Regions from separate parts of the Homo sapiens genome. Here region 1 is linked to region 2. Evidence: fine-mapped expression QTL. Tissue or cell type: cerebellum. Region 2 holds a variant in brackets; the other region holds the start of a gene. All regions are shown on one strand. Distances are between the middles of the regions.

Region 1 (8,096 bases), 400 kb after region 2:
AAAGTTCAAAAGAGGTAGAATAAACAGTACATCAGCTCAGAGAGAAACAATCCAATCCCTTTATTTCACATATAGAAAAACAGGCCATATTCTTGTACATTCTTGGTGGGAATATAATGCAGTGAAGCTTTTTTAGAAGATGATTTAACAGAATCAGTCAATTGTAAATGTACAGAGCCTTTGACCCAGCAGTTCTTCTAGAAATAGATCCTCCTCACATGTGTGCACAAGTATGCTCACCATGGCACTGTTTGTAAGAAAAACGGGACAAGCTAAATGTCCAGTAATGAAGATTAAATTGATTATAGTGTACACTGCTGTGGAATGCTTTACAGTCAATAAAAAAGAATGAGGTACATTTAAATGTACCCCATTCTCCAAGTTCTTCAAGACATGGCATTCAATGGAAAAAGCAGGACACAAAGCAGGAAAAGAACATTATCTCATTTCTATAAAAAAGAAAATAAGGAACTGATTCACCATGCATATACACATAAATGTATGTAATACACAGATGGGATTGAAAAGGCTGTAACCAAGGCTGGGCACGATGGTTCACGCCTGTAATCCCAGCACTTTGGGAGGCTAAGGCAAGTGGATCACTTGAGGCCAGGAGTTCAAGACCAGACTGGGCAACATGGTGAAAACCCACCTGTACTAAAAATACAAAAATTAGCCCGGTGTGGTGGCACATACCTGTAGTTCCAGCTACTTGGGAGGCTGAGGCATGAGAAGTGCTTGAACCTGGGAGGTGGAGGTTTGCAGTGGGCCAACATTACGCCACTGCACTCCAGCCTGGGTGACAGAATGAGACTCTGTCACAAAAAAAAAATAAAAAATAAAAAAGAGAGAGAAAGAAAAGGCTGTATCAGCCTCAGTGGGTTACCTCTGAGGAGGGCACTGAGAATGAGTGATCTTTGTGTTTTCTTTTGTGTCTTTCTGCATTGCTGCAATGCACTAAGAATTTGTGTATTACTTGGCCAATACATCCAAAAACAAAAACCAAGGGACAGGCAGAACATTCTGCCCAGGGCCACACAGTGTGGTAGAGAAGAACTGGTCCTGAACTCAGACCTCCTGATACCTACTCTGGACTCCTTCTTCTGCCTTCCCTGAATCTCCACCACAGTTTCTTTTGTTATAATCACAGCAGCCATCATTTATCTTGAAGTCAGGCACTGTTCTAAGTGGGTCATCACAACACTAAGAGGTACAGACATCCCACATGCATATTTTACGGGTGAGAAGACTGAGGCTCCAGAGAGGGGAAGTGCCTGAATTTGTAACCTTTGGTCTAATCCTCCACCTACCCCTTGAAAGAGACAGACATTTGCATCCTGGTCTTTCACACCCAGAAGCCACTCAGGTAATGTGGGTTGGCCCAAGAGAACTGACCTGATACTCCTCCTCGGTAAGGCCTTCAGCCAGGGCATGTTGGCGCAGCTGGTCGGGGTCCTGGGCGCGGAAGAGGCGGCTGAGCAGAGCATAGATGTAGGGGGCCTCAGGGGAGGTCTGAAGCAGCACAGCCAGGCCTCCGTACCAGGCGGCACGGGACAGGTGGTAGGCATAGAGGCGCTCTGTGGGTGACAGCAGGCGGAAGGCCTCACGGCAGTCCAGGCTAGACACGCCGATGTCATTGGGCAGGATGTACTGGGTGTCCGCCATGGGCCCTGCTGAGAACCATCACTGTCATCACAGCTGTTGTTTACCCCATACCAATTGCATACCTGGCTCTGAACTCTTATGATCTCATTTAATCCTCCCAAAAGCCCATGTGGAAGGGAATACTATTGTACCCATTCACCAGATATGCTAACTGAGGCTTAGAGAAGGTGAGATGACTCACCCAAGGGGTCACAAAATACACTGGTGGACCATATTTGGTCTGTAGTCCCTAAACCTTAAAGATTGACTCTAAGGTCAGGCATGGTGGCTCACACCTGTAATCCCAGCACTTTGGGAGGCCGAGGTGTGTGGATCACCTGAGGTCAAGAGTTCAAGACCAGCCTGACCAACATGGTGAAACCTCCTTTCTACTAAAAATACAAAAATTAGCCAGGCTTGGTGCCAGGCACCTGTAATCTCAGCTACTGGGAAGGCTGAGGCAGGAGAATCACTTGAACCCAGGAGGTGGAGGCTGCAGTGAGCTGAGACCGCACCATTGCACTCCAGCCTGGGCAACAGAGTGAGACTCCACCTCAAAAAAAAAAAAATTGATTGACTCTAACTACCTAGTATTACAGATGGGGAAACTGAGGTTCAGAGAGGCTAAGAGCCTTGCCTAATCCCACAATGGAGACATCAGCAGCAGAGATCCTCATCTCTAGGCTCCCAGCCCAGGCCCCTCCCTGCTTCCTTGTTCAGTATTATTTTTTTAAGACGGAGTCTCACTTAGTTGCCCAGGCTGGAGTGCAGTGGCATGATCTTGACTCACTGCAACCTCCGCCTCCCGGGTTCAAGCGATTCTCCTGCCTCAGCCTCCAAAGTAGTTGGGACTACAGGCGTGCATCACCATGCCCAGCTAATTTTTTGTATTTTTGATAGAGACGGGGTCTCGCTATTTTGTCCAGGCTGGTCTCGAACTCCTGGCCTCAAGCGATCTGCTTGCCTTGGCCTCCCAAAGTGCTGGGATTACAGGCGTGAGCCACCGCGCCTGGCCTTTGTTCAGAATTCTTTACACTTTCCACTGTGCTCACAAGGATAAAGTGCCAGGCCGCCAGCTGGAAGGCTCAGCCTTTAGCCAGGACTCGGCCCCAGACTCCTAAAAGTCAAGTCCATTGCTTCACTTTTCTGTACCTCCGTTTCCTCCTCTATAAAAGAGAGAATAACCCCAATATTACCAGGTGGGTGCGCTAATCAGATGAAGTCGCCCTGGACGGAAAGTATCCACAGCAATAAATGATTTTGCTTGAAACTGTCCCATTCTCATCCCTCTAAATGCCTTTTCCTTGGCCCTCCATTCTCCTGCTCGCTCCCTGTGCTCCACCAGGGAAGCCACAGAAGTTCACAACCAGAAGAAAGCCCATTTTACAGATAGGGAAACTGAGGCTTGGAAAGGGCAACAATTTACTGAAGGTCTGACAGCCCCGTTGGAACCCGGGGATTCCCCAACCCGGGGCATTCTCCCCGCCACGCCCCGTCCCGGCTGGGACAGAGTGTCCAGCCTCCTCGCCCTGCCCCGGCCTCCAGAAGCCCCGCCCCAATAGCACAGCCTCGAGGTTCGGAAAGGGCTGTTAACTCTTTGCTCCCCGGAGCACTCCTTGGCCTCGAGGGCGGGGTGAATTTGGAGGGGGTACTGGAGAGTGGGCAGAAAGGGAACGATTTTGCGCTCAGTATGGATTCGCCTTGGTCCCCCGGGATGACACGCTTTGACCCCAAAAGCCCAGGCGCCGCGCCTCACCTGCAGCAGCTGCTCCGTTCGCAAACTCACTTCCTGCTTCCGGCTCCCCCATTCATTGGGGCTCTGCGAACCCCGCCCCCCTTGGCCAACTGCCTGGCCTCGGGGTCCGGATGGGCGTCAGTACCAGCCAATAGACGCGCCAAGACGAGCTTCTCGGCTCGCCCGCTCCCGCCCCCAGGCGCTACGGGGTGGCGCGCGGATTGGCCCTGCGGGCTCGGCCTTTTGTCAGCAGGCCGCACACGCGCCGGACCGGGTACCGCTGTGCCCGGCCTGGCCGCGGCCTAGTCCCGGCAGACGGGACTGACGAGGTCACCAAGCCCAGGCCGAGACGGCGCGGGTGTCAGGGACTTGGGAATCCCCCTCCCCCAGTCCCGATCCCGCTTTCCTTTGGGGTTTCACCTCAGAGGACCCGACAGCACTCTTGCAGGTGGGAACCTACACAATAGGAGTAATGTGGCTCCACCTTCCTCTCGGGACTCGGGACCTGGGGGTGGAGACTTGGAAGTTGCAAAGCTCTCGGTGCCGGGAATCGGGGCTACGGTTGAGTGGGATCGGGCCAGGGCTGAGGTGGTCCCACCCGTGTAGGGGCGCGGAGAAACGCCTCGACTGCTTCACTGTACCACCACCCACCCGCCACGGGCCTGGAAGGAGCCGCTAAACATTCCCGAGCCTCAGTTTCCTTAGCACAAACAGGCTGGTAGTTTCCTGGTGCTTGCCAGATGCCTGATGGATGAGAAAGCCTCCTGCGGCCCCGAAAGGGAGTCCAGAGCAGAGGCGGGCCCGCGGTCCACTTTTACAGGTCTGGACGGACTCACGGGACCACGGTCTGGGTGGGGCATGCGGAAGGGCCTAGGCCAAATGGGGAGTAGTGGTGAGGGCCCAGGGTCAGACTGGGGGGTGGAGTGAGGTTGTCTGGGAGTCTTGGCTTTATGAACCGGAAAACCAGGCTAATAATTGAATCCAATCCAAGGGATATTGTAAGTTGTGATGTGTTGACTGCAGTGCCGCTCCCTATAGTTGCGCAGGGTGAGGGGCGTTTGGGTACTGAAATCCCGCACGGTCTCCTTGCTACGCCCGTGTCTAGGCCAGACAGCCTCTGCTTACCATAGACACCAGTTTCTCATCCACAAAGGTGCCCAAGGCCCTGCTTGACACAACAGTGTTACAAGCTGTTAGCTTTGATGATTACTTGTTATATGGGGGAGTTCAACAAGTTGGTCGGTGTCCTTAGGAAAGTCACCCCTCTTCTTTCCTGTGCCTCCGTTTTCATTGTCTTTAAAATGGGTATAAAGTTGGCTGACAGGTGAAGTTGAAATGTGCACAGGTAAGGGAGGTAGTGCTGCCCACTGCCAGCAGGGGGCAGCTCAGGCAAGGAAAAGACCCCAGTGCTCTCAGGACCCCCCAACCAGCTACGTGATCACATTTTTATGATCACAGATAAGATGAGCATATACTGAGGTCCCTTGCTAGCAGTTTGGCATGGAGGACCTCATTTAATTCTTGCAAAAATCCTGAGGTATGATCACTTTACCCATTGTACAGATAGGGAAACTGAGGCTAAGAGGTTCGCCGACTCCTATAACACCACACAGTTCAGATATCCCTGGCCCCAACATAGAGATACACACACACAGTCACTCACATGGAGCAGTCTATCACTGGAGTCATAACTCCCCAGCCTTGGCTCTTCCCCATGGGAATGCAAAAGGGGTCGGTGAGGAGCAACAGTTACGAATCAACTGTGTTACAGGTGCTCTCTGTATATTCACAACCACCTGGCGAGGTAGTGACTGTTATCCCCTTTAGCACTGAGGAAACTGAGGCTCTAACAGCTGGCAAAGGCAGAGCTGGGACAAGACCAGGGCTCTGACCTCCTCCACCAATACCTCTGAATCCTCCCCAGCATCTACTGTGGTGCCCTTTGCTGGTCTTTCCTCCTAGGGTCTGAGGTTCCCCACTGGAAATGGGATCAGAATGTTCCCCTGCCTGGTTCCCAACAGGGTCAGAAGAGAGAACTTGGAAGAGTTGGATTTTGAGTGCTTTGTGTGTTGTGTGTATGTTGAGGGGAGAGAAGTTGGAATGCTCCCACACCTCCTGCAGCATCCCCACCCTCCCCTTCACCCCCACTGCAGCAGTGCCATGCTCTGGAAGCAAGAATCTGATCACACCCTCCTCCTTCTCTCATCACATTCGGGTGCCCTCTGTCTTCTCAATAACCCAGGTCTGATCTCCCTGGCCGCAACCAGCTGTGTGGCCTTGGTCAGGTCCATCCCTCCCCTTGGAATCTGTACTTCCCTAGGCTCTGTCATCTATTGGGGACGATGCCCAGGTCAGGCCTATACTCAGAGCCTTCTTCTCTTCATCTCCAGAACAGCCGTCTGCCTGTCTTCCTGGCTCGCTCCCTGCAGGAATGGTCTGGGGCAACCCCAGCAACACGCCCACCTGTGGCCAGGATGAATAGGAATCCAGTTCAGGCTTGGCTTCCATGGCAATCAAGGCCCACCAGGCCCCAGCAACCTTCCCTACCCCCCATTCCTTTTTGCTGCCCCCCTCCACACCAGGCATGTTCCCTGCCACACCATGCTGTTCCCCTCACCTGGGCTGCCCTCCCAACTCCTCTCTGCCTCTGGAGATGCTCTGCCATTCAAGACTTGGCTCAGGCTCCAGGTCCTCCCTGGGCCTTCTAGAGCCCCTGGTTCTCACTCCTCTGAACACTTCCAGCCTGGCTAATAGCCCACTGCATCCTGGCCTGGGGTACAGGTGGCCAGCACAGGTGTGGGGGCCAGCTTCCAACACAAGCACGGGTAGGTCCCTCTGCAGACCATGGGCTGCAAGAGGCCCGGCCTTGCCCACTGCAGGGGCCCTGCGCAGGGCTGGGCACGAAGCAGGTGGGTGTCCACCAATCTAGTATCCAAAACCCTGCTTGGTTCACCCCCACCTCTGTTGAAGGAAAGCAACACTGTGATGGAGAGGAGCAGCTGTGGATTCAAATCCTGGCTTGGCCACTTTCTAGTTGTGTGACTTGGTGCATCTGCCCTCATCTCCTCAGAGACAAAAATGGCAACACCTCCCTTCTTGGGTTACTATGAGGATTAAATAACAAAACCTCCAAGAAGCAGAGCCCGGTGTCTGGAGAGTGCTCAATGGACGTAGTTATTATTATCATCATCAGCACAGTGCGGGGCACATGGTGGGCATTCAGGGATGATGGCCCTTGTGTCACAGCCGACACTCTTGACCAGTGAGTCCTCTCTCCTCCCTTTGTTGACTCCTGACCGTCCACAAATGAGGTTCAGAATCCTCCATCCAGCATCTTCCCTGGTCACATGGTCCCAACCTTTTGCTCCACCCCCTTCTCTGTTCCCCCCGCAGTCCATGCTCCAGCCATCCTGACTCTGTCCCTGGATTTCTGGCTTACTGACACCTGAGCCTGTGCACAGGCCCTCCCTTCTGTATAGAGCACGCTTCCCATCTTGTGGACTTGCTTCCCATCTTGTGGACTCGGAGGGTTCCGAGCAGCCGTTGAGGCTGAGCTCCTATGACACCTCCTCCGTGAAGCCTCCCTCACTTTTCCATTACCAGTGAGGCCTGCCACAGCCTGATTTGTACTCTGATCCTGGCACGCATGAAGCCGTGTTGCCATTTGTTAACAGTCTGTCCTCCACTAGACTGTGAACTCCACCAGGGGGGGAACCAGGTCTGATTGCCTCTGTGTCCCCAGATACCACTTAGCACAGAGTCGAGCCCATAGTGGCTATCAGCAAGTGCTAGGCCCAGCCTGCCACCCACCCACCACTCACTTGGGGGCTGGAGGCATTGCACGCATGCGGGGCATGTGGGACTTGTGGGGGCAGCTGAGCAGCGAGGTTTATAGAGGAACCCAGGGCGGCAGCAGGAAGGATGAAGGATGAGTGTCTGAAACTGGGTTGGCAGGCTCAGGGCATAGCCAGCCTAAGCTGGGGGTCAAAGGCCCCTGGCCCCTTCACTCCCCCAGGGGCACACAGTGTCGGCGGCACGATGTGGGATGCCCCAGGAAGGGCAAGGCCATGGGGCTGGGCTTTCCTCCATCGACCCAGGACAGAGCTGGTGCTGAAGGCCCCATCAGCATGACTGGGGTGGAGATCTTGGGGACCTCCTTGGGGGGCCACAGTTGGGGGGAAGGGCACAGCCCATCCAACATGTCCATCTGGTGTGGCTGTGCCAGCAGGGAGTGTCCCACATGCAGAGCTCCCTCTGGGCTGCAGGAGGTGGGGACCTGGGTGGGCAGGTGGGCACAGCAGCAGGGGGCCCCAGGGAGCCTAATCCAGCGGGCCCTGGAAAATGAGGCGGACGCAGCCATGCTCGCCGGTAAGCCAGGCCCCGCAAAAGGGGCAGGCGGCATGGAAAGCATGGGTGCCGTGGGGCAGTGGTGTCTGGGCCCAGTAGCGGGCAGTCTTCTCAGAGCAGACGTGGCCGCAAGGTGCAAAGGCATGGCTAGGCGGCCCAGGGTCCAGGCAGAGGCCGGCCTCCTGGCCAAGCCATAGAGGCACATAAGGCCCCACAAGGCGGCAGAGAGGACATTCGCGCTCCTGGGGGCCCCGCTCCCGCCGGCAGCCCCAGCCGTGGTAGCCATGGACGTGCCCGCAGCGGACGTAGACCCAGGGCTGCTGTTTGTCGGGCGCTGTGCGGCCACGGGCTGGGCTGGGGAAGGCCAGAG
Region 2 (8,099 bases):
CTGGGTGTGTCACTTAATCCCACTGCACCTGGTCCCTTACCTGTACAGGGAGGTGATGAGGGGCTGTGAGGGTTACTGAGTGAGTCTGCGTGAAGAGCCACAGTGGCCCCTGCCTGGCAAGGAGCAAGGCTCTGCTGGGGTCACTGCCCACCATTGTGCCCTCCTCCACTGGCACTGGCCGGGCACCAGGTGGAGCTCAGTGAGTATGTGTTGTGTGCTATGGAAGCGGCAGCTCTGTCAGGAGCGGGGCAGGTGACGGCCAGGCCCTCGCCCTGCCTCAGCCTGCAGGTCGTCGTAGGTGCCTTCCTGACTCCCTTCTGGAAGGGGAATGCTGAGTTATTGATCTGAAGCTGAAGCTGGGAGGGAAATGGAAGCTGTGGAGTCACCCGAGAGGCAGCAGGGGAGGAAGCAGGTGCCCCACACACTACTGGCTTCACTGTGGCTCATTCTTGCTTGCAAGGAGTTATTTACACGTCCCAAGTGACAGTCAAAGCTGTCTTATTTCTTGGTCTCTTATGCACAACCCGAGGCCAAGAAAAGGGATCTGTCAGCTGGCATTTGCAGAAAATAGCAAGTGGGTCTCTGGGCTGTCAGCTCTCTGGAGAGGAAAACAGGGTGAAGGATCTTTGGGTGATGGTGGTTGCTTTTCTCTCACTCACTCACTACTGTTTCCCCATTTCTGAGGTCAGAAAGGGAGAGCTTTGCTTGTGTGTATCACCAGGAGCAAGCAAGACAGTGGCATCCCCCGAGGCGTGTAACTGTAACCTGAGCTGGTTGCTGGCCCTGGCAGCATCCCAGAATGCCCTTCACACCTGGGGCTCTAGCAGCCTCCCTTGAAGAGTTGCGGCTCAGCTCGAGGGAGCAGGAAACGGCTCTGTGGGTTCTGTTAGTAAAGCCCTCTGCATTTCCAGGGAAGCTTCTCAGCCAAACTTGACAACCTTGAGAACTTCTTGATTGCCATCCACCAACCAAATACCCAAAAGCAGGGTGCAGCATGGGACTGCAGCATGGGACTGCAGCATGGGACCGCAGAGGGAGCCTGGCCCCAGCCATTGCTGCCCCCTGCTTCCTGTGCCTGGCCATCGCCTATTCTGTGCCGTGCTGTGAAGATGGCAGGAAGTGCCTGGAATGGTGCCAGCCAGAAGGGCTGCAGACTGGTGGCACTTGCTGGGAATGTGCCATTGTGAGTTGAAAGGCTGGCATACTCCAGTGTCTGGGCTTGGTTTCGTACAGCCTGAGGACCGGGAGTGTCATTAATACCAGAGGCAAGGCTTCTGGGGGTCTCAGGAAGGCCGTCTCCCACCCTCTGCTGCCACTTCCGAGGGTCACCATAGGTGCCTCCAGCTGCAGGGGTTCCTTCTTCTATACCCCAAGTGCTGTGCAGAGGCCCCTGCTCCCTTCGGCTTTGGGGAATGGTCTAGTATTGGGGAGCAGGGGGAGTCTGCCCACCCAGCTCCTCCCTTTGAACCATCCCAGACCCCTCAAGCTCAGCATACCCAGAGTCGGCTTATTCCACCATAACCTTGAAGACCCTGCTTCCTGGAGAGAGGGTGGTGTGAGGGGGCCACGCCCATCTTACAGTGCGGTTTCTCCCAGCCGATGTTGATTCTGGAAAGGCCTGGGTTTCAGATCTGGGAAGGCAGTGCCATTCGATAAGGAAAAACTGGGTTAACCAAGTTCTAGGAAGGGTGCAGGCGCCCTGGGAATGCAGTGGTGTTTCAGTTCATCTTTATGTCTGTTGGGCCCCATCCGTGCCTGGCATTGTGTGCGGGTCAGGGAGAGACAGGTTGGTGGTGGGGGTCTTGTGTGACCACAGCGGTGAGCTTAGTTTCAGGGCCATAACTAGGTTCTAAGGAGCAGTGCAGCCCTCACCCTCCGTCATTCACAGCAGCTCCTGACAGCCTTCCCCAGCCCCACACTGCCTGCTGGCCAACATTTCCGTGTCTTCCGCCTCACTCGGCAGCACATCCCAAATCCATCACAGAAACCTGCCCTCCCGTCTCTGACTGCCTCCTGTCTCAGACCACCTCCCTCATCATCTTGCCAGGTCCCTAGGGGGCCGAGGGAGCAGGCTGTGGGCTGTGGATCAGCTACTCTCTGCGTGACCCAACCTCCCGCCTCCCTGCAGCCAGCGGCCCATGCCAGCTTCTAGGCCTCAGGTTCACAGCCTCTAGGCTCACTGCTGCCCCTTCCCCTGATTGCAGCCCAGGCCTCCAGCAGCCTTGTGTTGGGGAACTTTGTATTCTGGGCCAGTAACCTCAGGCAGAAGAGCAGCTGTCTGTGGCTCCTCAGACACCCTCCTCTGTGCACTGAAGGCCGGTACAGGGTGAGTGCTCTGGGACAGGTGCCCCCCTCTCTGCAACACCTGACACTCCCAACTACTTTTGTTTGGGGTGGGTCTTCCTTTGCAGAGGAATGTTGGGGACAGGTTTCTGCATTGGCAAAAGCACGTGGTGTCCTCGGGCCTGTGTGTTTGCTCCAAGTGTATGTGGGCATCACACCTGCTGGCTCCCCTATGCAGTGAACTCTGCTAAGCATTGGGTGCATGGTCAGCCTGGCTTGGTGGGTGGGCTGCCTGTGCTGCCTTCACCCCAGGACGGCCTGGCCTGTGGGGAGGTCAGCATGGAGCTGCATCATGGTGCGAGTGGGAGGGCGCAAGTGTGTGGGCCTTCCAGCTGTGTGGGGCCGGGGGCTTCCTCCCTGGCCCTCTGTTCATCTGGGAGGGGAGGGAGTTGGGAAGATAGTGACAGCAGCTGATGTTTGTCACCCAGGCATGGCGCTTTAGCTGTACTGTCTCAGTCGACCCCCAGGATGACCTGCTTAGGGTGGGCTGGTGGAACCCCGTTTTACAGATGTGAAAGCTGGGGCCTCAGAGGTGCCCAAACCATGGAGCTGGGGCAGCCCCCGGCCAGTGGACTGTGGGCCTGCGCTGGGCTGTGCCCCAGAGGAGGCTACTCTCTGTTCCACTTTTCCCTGCTCTGACTTCAGCCGAAGAGCCCTGATCTTTTCCCTTCCATAAACATCTGCCTGGCATGCTGCCACCCAAAGAGCTCCCGTGCCCCGGGGACAGTCCTCTTGGCCTCAAGTCTAGGCCTGCTTTCGCTTCCCTCTGAGGGACACAAGGACTCACGGAGGCATTCCTGTGCCCCCCGCTGCCCACAGCCTCCGGCTCTTGGTGGAGTGGGACTGCTAAGGAATCCTTTACCCACCAAGAAAAAATGAGGATCCAATGCAAGAATGTATGTGAGAGGGGCCGCCGAGGGGGCGGCAACATGTCAGCACTCCATCATTTTCCTGCCTGAGCTAAGCAGACACTTGGTGGCCACGCTGTGGGGCAGGGTGCAGCCTTCCAGAGGCTCTGGAGGTGACCGGCCTTTGGCATATCTTCTGAGGAAATCTCTTTCTTTGCATGGAAAAGGCAGTGGGGAGTGAGTGTGGTGTGGACAGGGGAGGAGAGCAACAAAAATGACCTGTTTACCCACAAACCAC[G/A]GGTAAGTGCCCCTGTGGTCGCAGGGTAAACCCACCCAGGTGGGAGGAAAGGACTGGGGCTCCCTGGAAAAAGCTTGAAACTGCCCTGGAGGTTTGAGAATCTCGGTGCCAGTGGGCTGCTGCCAGCTGTGAGGCTGCTCACCTATAGGCAGGCCAGCAGGTGAGGAGGGGGAGGGTGCTAGGCTCCTGGGAGACACATAGCCAAGTCCTCCCACCCAAGGAGTCGGTGTAGCAGGAGCTCCCTTCGCCTTTTCCTGCGGAGCTCTTCCTGTCCCTTCTGTATATTTCTTCTTTTTTTTCTAATTATAAATAACGCATCCCCAATGGAGAAAATATGGAAATTTTCCATATGGAAATATAGAAAAGCATAAAGAAGGAGGAAAACACAACTCTACAGCAATTCCATAGCACGTGGGAGTGAGGAGGGTGGCATGCAAGCAGTCCTACAGTTGTTGCCATTCCTTTAAAAAAACTTCATGAGATCATGTTGTTTACCATTAAATTTTCTTGGCTTCACATTACATCACAAGCATTTCCCATGTCATCAAAACCTGTGCAAACACATTATTGTTAATGGTTACATAATGTCTGTGGGAGCCAGGGTGTGGAATCTTTAAATTGCTTCTCATGATTTTCTGTTGTAAATAATGCTGCTTTGAACATCTTTCTGCGTACATCTTGGTTCCCATTTTGGAATATTTCCTGGGGTTGGATTTCTGGAATAGTAATGACTGGGCTCAGGGGCATAACCCGCCACCATGCCTAGCTAATTTTTTTGTATTTTTTAGTAGAGATGGGGTTTCACCGTGTTAGCCAGGATGGTCTCCATCTCCTGACCTCGTGATGCACCCGCCCTGGCCTCCCAAAGTGTTGGGATTACAGGCGTCAGCCACTGTGCCCGGCTTTTTTTGTTTTGTTTTGTTTTTGAGATGGAGTCTCGCTCTATCACCCAGGCTGGAATGCAATGGCGCGATCTCGGCTCACTGCAACTTCCGCCTCACAGGCTCAAGCAACTCTCCTGCCTCAGCCTCCCGAGTAGCTGGGACTATAGGCGCCCACTATCATGCTGGGCTAATTTTTGTACTTTTAGTAGAGACGGGGATTCACCATGTTGGCCAGGGTGGTTTTGAATTCGTGACCTCAAATGATCCGCCTGTCTCAGCGTCCCAAAGTGCTGGGATTACAGGCGTGAGCCACCGCGCCTGGCCGGGCATAAATACCTTAAAGGCTCTTGATAAGTTTTGCAAACAGCTTCCCGGAGAAGCTGCCGTGATGCTCAGCAGTGCCTGCGGGCCGCCTCCTGAAGGCCTTCCTGGCGCTCAGCACTGCATTTACAAAGCTCCCAGGCAGGAGTGGCACCTCATGGTTGTATTTTGAATCTCTTGCTTTCTCGTGGGTTCAAGAGCCACTTGTGTTTGCTGTCTTGTTGCTGTGCTTGTCCCGAAGGCTCCCCTCGCCTCTTCCTGACTTTGCCCTATGTGGTAACTTGAGCTCTTTTGACATGGCCTTTCCCAGCGCTCAGCAGAGTAGACATTTGGTGCCCAGGAGGAGGGTGAGATTTACACCCCACACCTGCTCTCTGATGCCAGTGCCGCCTGCTCCCAGCTGGGAAAGACCTGTCCTCCTAGTGGGCAGCATCCGATAACTCGCCTGGAGCAGGGCTTAGAGGATTGTAGATCTGCATGTGGGAGATAGCAGGGTGATAACGTCTGACGTTCATCCTGCTCTGAGCAGGGTGTCTCCACACCTGAGCTCCTCGCTGGTGCTCCCGGCACCTCTTGAGCAGCAGGTGCTGGGGCATGCACTCCCTAAGGTTATCTCCTCCAGCGGCATTAGCGGTGGGTATGGTTCTTTTCACTTGTCAATTTGAAATGATTTCAGACTTTCAGTAAAGTTGCAAGAGTAAGACAAAGAATTCTCGTACCCCTGACCCCAGTTCCCCCAATACTAGCATTTGCTTCATTGTTCCCGTTTTTCCCTGAACCATGTGAGTGGGTGTAAATTGCAGATGTGGTGCTCGTGGACCCTTGAGTTCCTCAGTGTTTTTCCCTAAGAATGAGGCTGTTCTCTAACATAACCACAGTCCACTGATCAAGATCAGGAAATTGATATCAACGCAATCCTCTTTCAAACCTGCAGACCTTATTTAAATTGTATCGTTGTCCCCTGATGTCCTCTTAGCAATAGAAACCCGGATCCAATCCAGGATCGTGTGTGGCTCTCACCATTGTTGCTTTGGTCTCCTTTCATCTGAAACCGTTCTTGCGTCTTTGTCTCTCACGACCTTTGACATGTTTGAAGAGTCCAAGCCAGTTATTCTGTGGAATTTCCCTGAATTTGAGTTTGCCCCTTGCTTTCTCCTGATTAAATTCAGGCCGTGCACGGCAGCGGGAACCCCATCAGGAGGTGTGTGGTATCCCTTCGGTGCTAGTGATATTAACCTTCATCTCTCGGTCAGCGTGGTGTCCGCCAGGTTTCTCCACTGTGCAATGAATAAGGACAAGGTATATTTTAGAAAGAGGAGGAGCCCAGAGTCCAGCAAGGTTACTCTACCCACGTTCACCATAGCCGGGTGTGACCTGGGTGCCTCCTGGTCACCGCAGTGGCCCCTTCCCAGCCCCCATCTTACCCTGCCTCTGGGAGTCATGCTCTGCCCAACTCGCGCCCCATCCTCCTGAGAGCCGCTCGCTTCTGCCCAGCGACCCGTGCGTCCCTCCCTCCTCCAGGCATCCCCCCTGGGCTCCTTCTTGGCTCTTCCTCCTCGGCCAGACTCAACTCCAGTGGGCCTGAAGACGCAGGCCTGACCCACTTCTCCCAGGCTGTTCTCTCCCTGGCTTCAGACACCACCGCCCCTGTGATGCTGCCCAGGTTCTTGTCCCTGCTCTTCCCCCTCTGTGAGCTTGCCTCACTCCCAGCCCTGCCTTTTCTGTCTTGCCCTTCTTATAGCAGGAAAAGTCATCTCCACCCACCCATACAGGATTTCTTCCTCTACCTTGCTTTCTATGGGGGGTCTCTCGACGAATCTTGTCTGTCATAGCCCAGATGTTTCCTAAGCCCCACCCCGACCCCCATAGCTTCCCCCTGTCAGAGGCTCCGCGTCTCTCAGCTCAGCCTCTGAATTGCCCCAGACATGCGTCGTCTGTCAGCCCCTGCTGCTCGCCAGTCCAGAGAGATCCTTTCCACTGTGCATCGATCATGTCCCTCCTGTCCTGTCCATGGCTGAAGGGAGGCCTCAACCACTGGGCCCTGTCTGTGGCTGCAGCCCCACCTCAGGCCGTGGGCTCACACTTCCCTCTCTCAGGACAGCACCAAGCCTGTTCTTCCTGAGAACTTCACAATTGCTATCCCTTCTTCCTGGAGCTTTCTCTGCGGATCTGTGCGTGGCCGACTTCTCCCCATCCAGGTCCCAGCTTCTGTGTCCCCTCCTCAGAGAGGCCTTTTCTAATATCCAGCCCCCAAACCCCTGCACCCGCCCCAGATCATTCGCAAAATGTCACCTGTTTCTTATCTTCCAGGCACTTGTGATCTGAAATGTTCTGATTTGTGTCTTGTTTTTCTTTTCTTTGCTCCTTTCACTGCCATTCATCTTCCATGAGCAGAACCCTTCACTGTTGTGTTCTCGACTCCTAAGGCTTAGAACTGTGCCTGGCATAAGGTCTGCCCCTAGTGGGGTTTTCTGTTTTTCTCCCCTGGCTGTGGGTCTTTCCTCCTCCTCCTCTTCTCTTTCTTCTACTTATTTCCTTGTTTCTTCTCTTTTCTTTTTCTTCTGTCTTTATTTCCCCTTTTCTAGGTTGTTGGCTGTAATATGGCACTAAGGTTTTTGCAATATTTGTTTCATTTCTTGAGTATGTTTTTATGTTCCTTACTTAAAACAAAATGGCTGAGTCAAGTGTTTTAAACGTTTTCTAAGAAATGAATCAGATCGGCCGGGTGTGGTGGCTCACACCTGTAATGCTAGCACTTTGTGAGGCCGAGGCGGGTAGACCACTTGAGGTCAGGAGTTCAAGACCAGCCTGGCCAACATGGTGAAACCCCATCTTTATTTAAAATACAGCCAGGCGTGGTGGTTCACACCTGTAATCCCAGCACTTTGGGAGGCCAAGGCAGGTGGATCGCCTGAGGTCAGGAGGTCGAGGCCAGCCTGGCCAAGATGGTGAAACCCTGTCTCTACTAAAAATACAAAAATTAGCTGGGCGTGGTGGCGGGTGCCTGTAATTCCAGCTACTCGGGAGGCTGAGGCAGGAGAATCACTCGAACCCAGGAGGCGGAGGTTGCAGTGAGCCGAGATCGCACCATTGCGCTCCAGCCTGGGTGACAGAGCAAGACTCTGTCTCAAAAAAAAAAAGAAAAAAGAAAAGAAACAAAACAAAAACAAAATTAGCCAGGCATGGTGGTGCATGCCTATAATCCCAGCTACTTGGGAGGCTGAGGCAGGAGAATTGCCTGAACCTGGGAGGCAGAGGTTACAGTGAGCAGAGATCATGCCATTGCACTCCAGCCTGGGCAACAAGAGCGAGACTCCGTCTCAAAAGAAAGAAATGAATCAGATGGTTAGATGAGGCCCAGATGCAGGGGTGAAAAGAGTGTGTCTGGTTTGGCTTGGGCTCTGT

Alleles and levels. Positions count from the first base shown, and alleles are read on the strand shown. Sizes are in standard deviations (SD) of each study's normalised expression.
With allele A in place of G in region 2, the expression in cerebellum of the gene that starts at base 3,617 in region 1 is higher (moderate effect, 0.57 SD a copy in GTEx).

The links. PIP is the estimated chance that this variant, and not a neighbour inherited with it, causes the effect.
Region 1: it holds the start of DPP3-DT, and the variant in region 2 is fine-mapped to the expression of DPP3-DT in cerebellum (GTEx, PIP 0.97).

What each region holds. Positions count from the first base shown.
Region 1 is chr11:66,475,770-66,483,865 of GRCh38, reverse strand. It overlaps DPP3-DT (DPP3 divergent transcript), which reads left to right and starts at 3,617. Exons shown (of 4, transcript NR_120586.1): 1 at 3,617-3,827. PELI3 (pellino E3 ubiquitin protein ligase family member 3) reads right to left here. Exons shown (of 8, transcript NM_145065.3): 8 at 6,529-8,096. The coding sequence ends at 7,699. It overlaps DPP3 (dipeptidyl peptidase 3), which reads right to left and starts at 3,432. Exons shown (of 18, transcript NM_130443.4): 1 at 3,401-3,432; 2 at 1,396-1,673. The coding sequence starts at 1,665. RefSeq lists enhancers at 3,293-3,462, 4,039-4,606, 5,545-6,138, 6,776-7,596 and a silencer at 3,603-3,652.
Region 2 is chr11:66,873,702-66,881,800 of GRCh38, reverse strand. All of the region lies in intron 3 of PC (pyruvate carboxylase), which reads left to right. Among named protein-coding and RNA genes, the nearest start is that of LRFN4, 21 kb to the right of the region's middle. RefSeq lists enhancers at 2,782-3,520, 4,247-4,747, 4,748-5,248. The variant G/A (reference allele first, on the strand shown) is at 3,490.